Homo sapiens: one gene and its partners. The protein of the gene in region 1 interacts with the protein of each later gene in a biochemical or structural test. Each region holds a gene or a part of one and is shown on either strand. Other genes may lie near its edges.

Evidence for each region.
Region 2: the proteins of PTPRD (region 1) and PPFIA1 form a complex in vitro, tested with the Homo sapiens proteins (one study listed by BioGRID).
Region 3: the proteins of PTPRD (region 1) and GPC4 form a complex in vitro, tested with the Homo sapiens proteins (one study listed by BioGRID).

The regions. Positions count from the first base shown.
Region 1 is NC_000009.12:8,485,305-8,489,054, reverse strand, and holds part of PTPRD (receptor-type tyrosine-protein phosphatase delta isoform 1 precursor), read left to right. Parts: intron 1-2,705; coding exon 2,706-3,293; intron 3,294-3,727; coding exon of another isoform or gene 3,728-3,730; coding exon 3,731-3,750.
Region 2 is NC_000011.10:70,378,646-70,382,395, forward strand, and holds part of PPFIA1 (liprin-alpha-1), read left to right. Parts: intron 1-3,442; coding exon 3,443-3,501; 3' UTR 3,502-3,513; intron 3,514-3,750. UniProt on the Homo sapiens protein: May regulate the disassembly of focal adhesions. May localize receptor-like tyrosine phosphatases type 2A at specific sites on the plasma membrane, possibly regulating their interaction with the extracellular environment and their association with substrates.
Region 3 is NC_000023.11:133,413,816-133,417,565, forward strand, and holds the start of GPC4 (glypican-4 precursor), read right to left. Parts: upstream 1,675-3,750; 5' UTR 1,151-1,674; coding exon 991-1,150; intron 1-990. UniProt on the Homo sapiens protein: Cell surface proteoglycan that bears heparan sulfate. May be involved in the development of kidney tubules and of the central nervous system.

The DNA of each region.
Region 1 (3,750 bases):
GTTTAGATCAAAAAATTATTTTTATTTATCCTAGCTTTACGTGCATCTCACGGAAACAGGATACACGGTGTATATATTATTATGCAGTTCGTTGGAACTAGAATTTCAAAAAATTTTAATAAATATGTTTAATCTGTTGCCTCTGGAGAATATTGAGAATTAATAGTTGTGTTTCCACCCACTCGTTTCAACGGAGTTTCATATATTGAAGGCTGTATTCTCTGTTGAAAGCTCTATTTCACCATGGATTTTTCTCAGCAGAGACTCAGGTGTTTAATCCTTGACACCATCACTGACATTTGGACAAATCATGTAAATGCTCTATACACATAAAGGGGAATTAAAGATGTCTGCCAATGTCCCTACATTAAAGTACTATTTTAAAATTAAGATAATTGTAAATATATTAAAAGCAAGTGGAATAGTTCACACAGTTTCCAACTTATGGATGGGTGGTGTTCTGAGAGTGTGTGTTGGTCGTTAAGATCTCTGGATGCATTTTTCCTGAGGAACACAATGAGTACACAATGATGTGGTTCCTGGGCCTACCTTCAACACACATGTTTTATATATACAACACAACACACATGTTTTATATATACAACACAACACACATGTTTTATATGTATAACACAGCACACATGTTGTTGAATAATTATTTATCTAAAAACTTTAGAAACTATTGTTTTCATACATTGTAGATTAGCTGAGTTATATCAGCATGTGATGAATCTTCCCAGCATGTGAAACAAAACTGTTGCTCCATTGGTTAAGGAAATAAATATCTTAATGATATTTCTTAGAGCAGAGCACATCTCCACTTGGGTTTCACTTTCTGAAATACAAAATGAAGAGGCTAATCAGTCCATCTCTGAGGTTAATATTCTATGTATTGTCTCATAATCTTTTTAGTGATTTTTTTACCTTCATCTATATCCCCATGGTATGATTTTTTATCACCTGTTTCCCATTACTGTAAGCTTTCCTCCTTTCCTACCATCTTTCTTTTTCTTCACATTCATAATTTTGAGGCACAGTTTCACTGTCACTCAGGCTGGACAGCAATGGTGTGATCATAGCTCACTGCAGCCTCAAACTCTTTGGCTCAAGCAATTCTCCCACCTCAGCCCCCTGAGTGGCTAAGACTACAGACATGTGACACCATGCCTTCCCCCCTCCCCCCGTAGAGATAAGGTCTTGCTATGTTGCCAAGCTGTTTGTTTGTTTGTTTGTTTGTTTGTTTTTGAGACGGAATTTGCTCTTGTTGCCCAGGCTGGAGTGCAGTGGCATGATCTCGGCTCACTGCAACCTCTGCCTCCCGGGTTCAAGTGATGCTCCTGCCTCAGCCTCCCGAGTAGCTGGGATTACAGGCATGCACCACCACACCTGGCTATTTTTGTGTTTTTTGTAGAGACAGGGTTTCTCCATGTTGGTCAGGCTGGTCTCAAACTCCCAACCTCAGGTGATCCACTGCTTCCCAAAGTGCTGGGATTACTGGTGTGAGCCACCACACCCAGCCGCTGGTTTTGAACTCTTGGGCTCAAGCAGTCCTCCCACCTCAGCTCCCAAAGTGCTGGGATTATAGACATGAGCCACCATACTTGGCCTTTCTTCTTCTTTCTGTTAACTTGGTTTAGTTTTTATTCTGATGATCATCCCTCAATGTCTTTCACTGTGGATTCCAATAATAATTGCTCTCCATTAAAAATAAATACAGACATAATAATACATTGAATGAGTAGATTAGACCTTTTCACATATCTAACTTAAAGGTAAATAAATTATGTATTCATTGGAAGCTAGCCTTTCACCATAAGAAGTTTAATATTCAGATTATTAATAATTATGGTTAATATTGATAGAATGCAGAACCTCATGCTAAGACTTTTACATGAATTTCCTCATTTATTATTCATAAGAACAATATAAAATAGCTCTTAATATAATTCCCATTTTACAGATGAAGAACTTGATGAATGATGTGGATAGTAAAGTTAGAAAGTGCAAATTAAATTCATAGTAAGTCAATACGATATTATTTTGTAGTTTGGTTTTTTTTTAAACTTTTAAGCAACATAGCAGCACAATTAAGCATTTAAGCAGTCGACTCCAGACAGAGGTGGGTTTGCCTTATAGATTTCTCACTTGTTACATGCTAGCCTTGGAAAGTTTTCTACCTCTCTGGGCCTCATTTTCTCATTATAGAAGATAGAGATAATAATAACTAATCCGAGAATGTAGTGAGGAGTCAGGAATGTAAACCAATTGTGAATACTATATGCAATGCACTTAGCGTGACGCCGGTACATTGCACATATTCAACGAATAAATAATCATTATAGTTATTCTTATTAGCCATATCTAATTGGCTGATCTTTGCTCAAATTAATTTATCTTTGATATGAACCTTTATGTGTGAAGGTTTAAAACGTGCAGGTGTCAAAAAAATCCCCTTAAGCTGTTGTTTCAATGATAATTTCTGTTTTGTGTCCATTATCAAATTCTAGTATCTCAGCCTACTTTAATAAAGTAAGACAAGGAGCATATTTCCACAAAGGTATGTAGGTCAAACATTGCCTGTTTTGTTTTGTTTTGGTAAGTAAGAAAATGGGAATACCAGTAGAGTGGAACTCCCTCATTTGGCAATGACTGAAATGTGAACGTTCAGATTGGTTGGTCTTACCACTCCATCCCATGTGCTCCAGTTCCAGGGAAACCTCGGCTTGTGATTAACCACACTCAGATGAATACTGCTCTTATTCAGTGGCACCCTCCGGTGGACACATTTGGACCTCTTCAGGGCTACCGTCTAAAATTTGGCCGCAAGGATATGGAGCCACTTACTACTCTTGAGTTCTCTGAAAAAGAAGATCACTTTACAGCTACAGACATCCACAAGGGAGCATCATACGTCTTCAGGCTCTCAGCCAGAAACAAAGTGGGCTTTGGGGAGGAGATGGTGAAGGAGATTTCCATTCCAGAAGAAGTACCAACTGGATTCCCTCAAAACCTTCACTCAGAAGGCACCACTTCAACCTCCGTCCAGTTATCTTGGCAACCACCTGTCCTGGCAGAGAGAAATGGCATTATCACCAAGTATACCCTTCTTTATAGGGATATCAACATCCCCCTTCTCCCGATGGAGCAGCTTATTGTTCCAGCTGACACCACTATGACACTCACTGGCTTAAAACCAGATACCACATACGATGTAAAAGTACGTGCTCATACGAGCAAAGGGCCCGGGCCATATAGTCCCAGTGTCCAGTTCAGGACACTGCCTGTGGATCAAGGTAGGATTTGTCTGCTTACGGCCTTCCTCCTTTAAAGGATTGTCAGTCTTTGGAAATCAGTATTTTGAAGCTATAATAACTGATCAGCCCATTCATATTAATAGGTTCAGCAAAAACAAAAAGGTAAAGTATGTAAAACTTACTACGTCTTGGATGCCTTAGATTTCAGTTATAGAATGTCAAGCAAGTCTGGCTGACAGCACCCCAATGTCCTCAGGTAAGGAAAACACAATAGAGTTGGCTGAATTGGAGAGAAAGGAAAGATCTCTGTGAGAATGGGGTATTAAAATGAATGCTCTAAACAGGTAGGAAAATCATACTTCTCTCTCTGATCAAAGTAGACAGCATCTAGCATAAGCCCCTATGGTCCATGGTGGAAAGGACAGGTCATCTGTTTTAAGAATAGTTTAAATACACTGTTTTTCCTTTTCCAGCAGTGTTTGCAAAAAATTTTCAT
Region 2 (3,750 bases), on another chromosome or scaffold:
CTATGCTTTCTGCCCTCCCTGCTGCTGCTGTTCCGTGCAGTCACATGTCTACCCATTAGAGGGCAGGGAAGGGAGGAAGGTGAACCTCCAAGAAGTCCCCAGTGGAGCGAGGCAGCTATTGACTATACCAGCCAGAGAGAGAGCATCACTGCCATGATTTCACATGCAGTTTGGGATTTTCCCTTAGACGGCCACTTTGATTTGAGGTTAACAGTTGACCATGGCTTCCTTACAGGTCTCTCAACTCTGCCCTTGTACTCATCTAATGAAAGGCAGTGCACAGGTTGAAGAGCCAGGCTGCCTAGGTTTGACTCCAGCTCTGCCACTAGGAGGTGCATGACCCTGAACAAGTCATTTAACTACCCTGGCCTCGGTCTCCCCATCTGTAAAATGGTCGTCATGGTAGTGTCTTCCTCATAGAGTAGTTGCGATGATTGAATGCCTCATTCATTAAGCTGGTGAAGTTCTGAGCCCGTGTCAGTCGGGGCTGTTTGGCAGCCCCTGTGCTACACACAGGTCACTCATGCTCACTTCTGAGGCCAGTGAGCAGACTGGAGGAAAGGAAGTGGCATTAAAAACTGTGCTAATCCTTGAGGCCAGGAGTTTGAGACCAGCCTGACCAACATGGCGAAACCCCGTCTCTACAAAAAAAAAATACAAAAATTAGCCAGGTGTGGTGGCACATGCTTGTAATCCCAGCTACTTGGGAGGCTAAGGCACAAGAATCATTTGGACCTGGGAGGCAGAGGGTGCAGTGAGCCGAGATTGTGCCGCTGCACTCTAGCCTTGATGACAGACTGAGACTCTGTCTCAAAAAAAAAAAAAATTTTTTTTTAAGTGCTAATTAGGGGCCAAGCATGGTGGCTTATACCAGTAATCCTAGCACTTTGATAGGCTGAGAGGCAGGAGAATCACTTGAGCTGAAGTTTGAGACTAGCCTGGGCAACACAGTGAGACCCCATCTCTAAAAAAAAAAAAATAATAATTGAAAACTGTGCGAATGGGGTTTTTGCCAATTTTTTTTGTCATCAGTCCCTCCCGTACGTAGGTTCATAAATTTTGTTCTCTATCACCTGTATAAAAATAAAAAGAAAAGTACATTTAAATAAAACCTTAGTTAAGCTGGACGCTTTGGGTGAGAATAGCTTACTTTGTGGCATTTTTAGTAAAAAGCTGTATTATTTATTTATTGTTTGCCAGAATTTGATAATATACTCAAGGGGGAAAACCCAGTATATCTTTTAACTAGGAACTTTTTACAAATTAGCATTTTTCTTCCAAGAGTCATGCATATAATTCTTAGAAAGCAGAACTGTGACTTGGCCTTCAGCTCAAGCTCTGTCACCTGGAGTCCACGAGTGCTTTCTTGTTTTACTTGTGGCTTCAATTTCAGTTTTCCTTCTGATAAATCACATCTCCCTTGTTAAATGTTAACAGGAATATTAAGAATGAGAGTTTGGATGGATGAAAAGTAAACCTAGGCCGGGCGCGGTGGCTCACGCCTGTAATCCCAGCACTTTGGGAGGCTGAGGTGGGTGGATCAGCTGAGGTCAGGAGTTCGAGACCAGCCTGGCCAACGTGGTGAGACCAGCCTGGCCAACGTGGTGAAACCCTGTCTCTAGTAAAAATACAAAAAAATCGGCCGGGCTCGGTGGCTCACGCCTGTAATCCCAGCACTTTGGGAGGCCAAGGCGGGAGGATCACGAGGTCAGGAGATCAAGACCATCCTGGCTAACACGGTGAAACTCCATCTCTACTAAAAATACAAAAAAAAAAAAAAAATTAGCTGGGCACGGTGGCAGGCGCCTGTAGTACCAGCTACTCGGGAGGCTGGGGCAGGAGAATGGCATGAACCCAGGAGGCGGAGCTTGTGGTGAGCCAAGATCACACCACTGCACTCCAGCCTGGGCGACAGAGCAGGACTGTCTCAAAAGAAAAAATTTGCCAGGCATGGTGACACATGCCAATAATCCCAGCTACTTAGGAGGCTGAGGCAGGAGAATGGCTTGAACCTGGGAGGCAGAGGTTGCAGTGAGCCGAAATCATGCCACTGTACTCCAGCCTGGGCGACAAGAGCAAAACTCTGTCTCAAAAAAAAAAAAAAAGTAAACCTAAAAGGTATAGGGAATTTATTATAAAGAAGACTTTTTACCCTTACATTAAATAACTCAGGCACAAGCCTGCTAAAGGGATTATTATTATTATTGAGACAGGGTCTCACTCTGTTGCCCAGGTTGGAGTGCAGTGGCTCAGTCTCGGCTTACTGCAACCTCAGCCTCCCAAGTAGCTGGGACCACAGGTGTGGTCCCATGCCTTGCTAATTTTTTGAATTTTTTGTAGAGATGGGCTCTCACCATGTTGCCCAGGCTGGTCTTAACTCTTGGGCTCAAGCAATCCTCCTGCCTTGACCTCCCAAATTGCTGGAATTACAGACGCGAGCCACCGTGCCCAGCAAAGTTGACTATTTTAATGGCTTTTTAATTAAGGGAATGTGGGGTAAACTCCAGCAGGTCTCCCAGGTTCTTAAGAGTCAGAGGGTTTGTGAAGATCATCTGTCCTCACCAACAGTCCCAACTGTCTTAATGTCTTTGCTGGAACCATGCAGGATGTTGATTAAGTGTTCCTGGTATACCTGTGGGAAAACAAAAAACATAACCGGGAGCAGCCAGTACCTGCTTCCGATTTGCAAAAACTTAAAATCCCAGTTGTTAATGGAAATCGGGCTTACTTATGGCCACACTGTGTTTCTTGAACAAGAACCAAAATCTGTGGTCTCTATGATTAATATTTCTGGTAGGAACTGAGACTGGGCTTCAGTTTTTAGATCAGCTTTCACCCCACTCCCTGGCCAACGCCCCACCCCTGCAGCCAGATCTCTGCACCTGCTCTGCTCCTCCCCAGGAGAAAAGGGCACCGGCTTCCCAGACACCCAGCTAGTGCTGGGTAGCAAGGTTCTCTCCCTCCTCTTAGACTGGTCTTGTACCCGACGTCGTTGGCCTCTGCGCTCAGTGGGGCTGGGCAGCATCAGCAGTGCCGCTTGGTGTTTCCTTCATACCAGTGTTAGAGATGGAGCACTTAGGGCAGGGAGAAAGCCCCATTGGTCTATGAATGCAGAGTTTAGTAAGAGATAAAGGGATCACTCTAAGTAGGGGTCATTTATGCAGATGTACATTTTGAAATTGTTACTGTACCATTTGGTGCTTGGTATTTCGGAGTAGTGTTCCAGAGTCTCCCGGGGCTCTTTGGGAGCTGGGGAGAGCCACCACTGGGTGACACTTGGATCTCTCTGGCTCCATCCCGCCCACTCAGGCAGCTCCCCTCAGGTCCCTCCGTAGGCACTGCTGTAGGTGTGAAGATGTGTGTCTACTTGTGCCCTCATGTGATGTTCTAAGACTAACTGCACGCTGTGTTTGCACGCTTCCTCTCGTGGCTGTTGAAACAGGCAATGTATCAGGAACACAGAGGTTGGATTCTGCTACAGTCAGGACTTACTCCTGCTAAAGTCTCCTGTTGGTGAGTAGAGAGCACCACAACCCCTAGAGATGGCTCAGAGGCACAGCAGGAGTCATCGGAGCTGCAGTGCCAGACTAGGGGTGTGGACCATGAAAGCCAGTGCAGTTTTTGGGGAATTTAAAATATATATAGACACAAGCTCTCCGTACCCATTAAGATCATTTTGTTGTTACAATTGATCATAAAGAGGTTAGTGTGTCCTCTTTTTTTAAGGAAAAAAATGTATTTTCACCTTTT
Region 3 (3,750 bases), on another chromosome or scaffold:
GCCGCCAGCTTCGCTGGGAGGGACGCAGGGCACCCGCCGAACGCTGCCTCCCCAGCGCTCCGAGAGGGGCTTTCACAAATACCCCCATACACCCCCCATCCCACCCCACCGGCGCCAAAATCCGGTGAACTTTCTCACAGGCTAAGCCGTCTCTATTTGCATAACCATCTCCAAACTGAGATTCAGGTTTCCTGTAATCAGTCCTTTCAAAGGTCTGTAATTGAAAGTGCAATTAACCCTTAAAATGAGGTAAGAAAAAAGAAAGAGGGGAAAAATACTCCTCTGGTCTGATACCTTCCGGAAAGTAGGAGAGTTCCCAAAAGTCAGGGTTTGGAGGGGTGGAGAGTGGGGGTAGTCGTTTGCTTTTTAAAGGCGACTTCTGAAGCGGTTGCGGCTACTAAAACTCCTAATCCTTGTCAGCGGTGCAAGAGAGGCGGGGAGAGAGTTTTAAAAGAACATCAATGAAACATCAATTCAAGTTCCACGTTTTGCGACCCCCAGAATCTAGCAAGCTCCGGGACGTTTCCCTCCACCACACCCCACTGGCGACCCCCACCCCCACCCGGCCTCTCCTCACCCATACAACAAAGCGGGGCGTCCTATAAGGAGTTCAACCCGGAAAAGGAGAAGTAGCCGGTGACACGCACTTTGAGGGCCACAGTCCTCAGGGGCTTCCCGGGACGGCGAATAATGCAGGGGGGAGAGGAGGAGCGGAGGCGGGGAGCGGAGCGCGACAGTCGCACTGGGCAACCCGGCGGCGCCCCTCCGCTCGCAGTGCTGGGAAGGGGGGAGCGCTGCGCCCGCGGGGAACGTCCTGCGCCCGGGCTGCCTGGCTCTCTCGCTCGCTCGCTCCTGCCCTCTCGACTGCCCATTTCTCCCTCTAGTGTACCTGCGTCCGGCGCAGGGGGCGGCGGGGCGGGGGAAGGGAGTTGCAGCCTCCCTTCCCGAAGTGTCGGTCTCTGCGCCCACCTCCCGGGTGTGCCCACCTACCGTTGATCTCGTGGAGGGGGGCATCGTTCTTGTTGAAGCCTTTGGACACGTAAAGACGTCGCACTTCCGAGCAACTTTTCGACTTGAGCTCGGCAGCCAGCAGCGCGGCGCTGAGCACTGCCAGGGTGCAGAGAAGCGCGGGCAAGCCGAACCGTGCCATGGTGCGGGCCGGGGCGGACGCGTTCCCACCTTTGGGACCGGACGGGAAGCGGCGCTACGGCAGCGGGCCGAGGGCTGGCGGAGTCGGGGACTAGCGAGTGGAGCTGGAGGGAGAAGGAGTTGGAGTTGGTGGAAGAGGCGAGCAGGCGGAGGAGACGCGGGGCGAAAAGTAGAGCTGGGCCTCGCGTCAGGCAACGGTCCCCGGTGCCAGGCGCCGGGCCAGGGGAGAAGGAGGGCGTGGAGGCGGCGCGCGGCCCAGGGAAGCAGAGGCGCGGGCTGGTGACCTCGGGGTTTCGCGGGGCAGCGAACCCGGCAAGCTGACTGGCCGGCGAGGCGGGGACGCGGGGAAGGAGGGAAGGGTGGCAGGCGCCGCGGGGACCGCAGAGGGTGTGGGCGGCGGCGGGCGTTCGCTGCGCGCTGCTTGGGCTGCCCTGCGCTGGTCCGCTCGTCCGGCTGGACTCGGCTCGGCTGACTCTGCCCTCCGCCGCGCGGCTGTGCCCTTCTCAGCTCTGCCGCTGATTGACTGGCCGGCGTGCGCGGCGACGCTCCGCAAACTTGGCCAAGCGGGCGGCACTCGGGGGGAGGGGGCGGGCGTCGTGGGGGGGCCGGAGACAGGCGGGAGCACGCTGGGCCGGGCCGGGAGAAAACCTGGAAGCCGGGTTGGATCCGGAGCGGCCAAATCCACTTCCTAGGGGGCCGCACCGGGCGCCCGGCGCTCCTTCGCGTGACACGCCCCACCCGGCTCCTCCTTCCTCCCCTCCTCCTCGGAGGCGGGGAGCCAGCCCACCGCCCCCCAACCACAAAGGGAAGGCCAACTACTCCGGGCTGAAGGGCCCAGGTTCTGGGGAACGGGACGGCCTGGGACTTGTCCCGAAGCCCATGTCTGAGCCCCAGGCCTTCTTGCGCGCGGCCACCTGACCCGCCGCCTATGGGCAAAAGCCGCGCGGAGCCCTCCCGCCGCGATATCCGCCTCCCCGCTGCCATCCCGCACCCGCGGACGCTCCTATCCGCGCAGCTCCCGGGCTGGGCGGGGAAGGCACATTACTCGCATTGTTTCGCTGCAGGCAGCAGGGGGATTTGGGGCTCCGAGCTCGTCCTAGAGCCTCACCTGGTCTCCCCAGACCTGCTTCCCATAGGACGGTACTCGTGAAACACCAGTTTGTCCAGGACCCCATCAGGCATCCTCCTTCCCGCATCCGCAACACTCCAACCCCTCGACGCCACTCCCACCCCCGACCCGGTTCTACTACAAGTCTAACCGAACTCTGAAGCGGGAGAAACCCCCAACCGCGAGGTGAGGGGGCAAAGACAGGGTTGACCGCAGAGATCTTGGAGACCATTTGGCCCAACCCTTCCTTCTATTAAGGGAACTGGGGCCCAGAAATGGGAAGCGACTTGGTAAATAGCACGCCGGGGAAGGGGGCGTCCAGAACCCGGGACTCTTGACTCTCGAATTTCATGGAATAATGGTAGCCCAGGACTCCCAAACCCCCTACCCCCTCAAGCCCCTTGAGAGAGACTGACACCCCTCTGGGACTCAGTCCCCACTTTTCCACCAGAAAACTGGAAATGGGAGAGACTTCCCATCTTGCAAGCTTTGTCAGATTCCATTAATGAGTGTTTTTTTGAAGCTCCCAGCGCTCCTTAAATGAAGGGAACTGTGCAGCTCGGGAACTTGTCATTACCGTTGTTATTGTTACAATCTGCTTTAAGAGGTTGGGTTGAGAAGTGCCTCAGACACCTCGGGAGTGTGCTGGGAACTGGGCAGATAAAAAGGGCTGGAACTTATTATTTGGCTAGACTCTCAATTCCCATAAAATTACATAGGGCAAAGATACGAACCATCATTACAGTTATCACCCTCAGAGGGTTTGTTGAGACTTTCTCCACTGTTGTTTGTAAACCACGTTGACATGGCTGGCTATGAGGAGCTGTTATTTTGAATACCTGCTTGCAGACTCTTCTACATTTTGTTAACAGACTATCAACATGAACAGACTGTGACCCGTCTATAACTGTGACTTCCAATTTCTGTGGGCTGGCTGAATATTTAACTCTGAAACTAGGAGAGCAATTTTTTTAATGTGCAAACTCAACTACAATTGAATTTCCTGCCATTTTCAAGACTTTCCTTAAACTGGTAACCATCAAGTCCTGAAGGCATTGCTAGGGCTTAGCTGAGCACTTTTAATTTTCATTGATTGATACATTTACTTAAAGATGTTCTTCACCAAGGAGAATATGCTCTGAGATGCAACGAGCATTATTATAAAATGGAAGCCAGTGACCGTAAGAGAGAAAATGATACTCCTGAACCATGAAGGCCAAATCAGAAAGCTACTTCTCACACCAAGGCTGGGAGGAACTCATTCGTTGCCGCCGCTCCCCCCCGCCGCCCCCGCCCTCCCCAGGTTTACTCCTGCTCTTCCTCATAATGTATTATTAACCCAAACTTGAGCCTTTTCCACCAGAAACAGTAACCTCTGGCTACAAACAGATCTGGACAAGTCTGAACTTTACCAAGGGAGGCAGGAACCCCAAGCCGTGCTCAGAGGCGGCTCCCACTTCAAAGCCTCCTTTCATTTAAATACAAACAGGGTG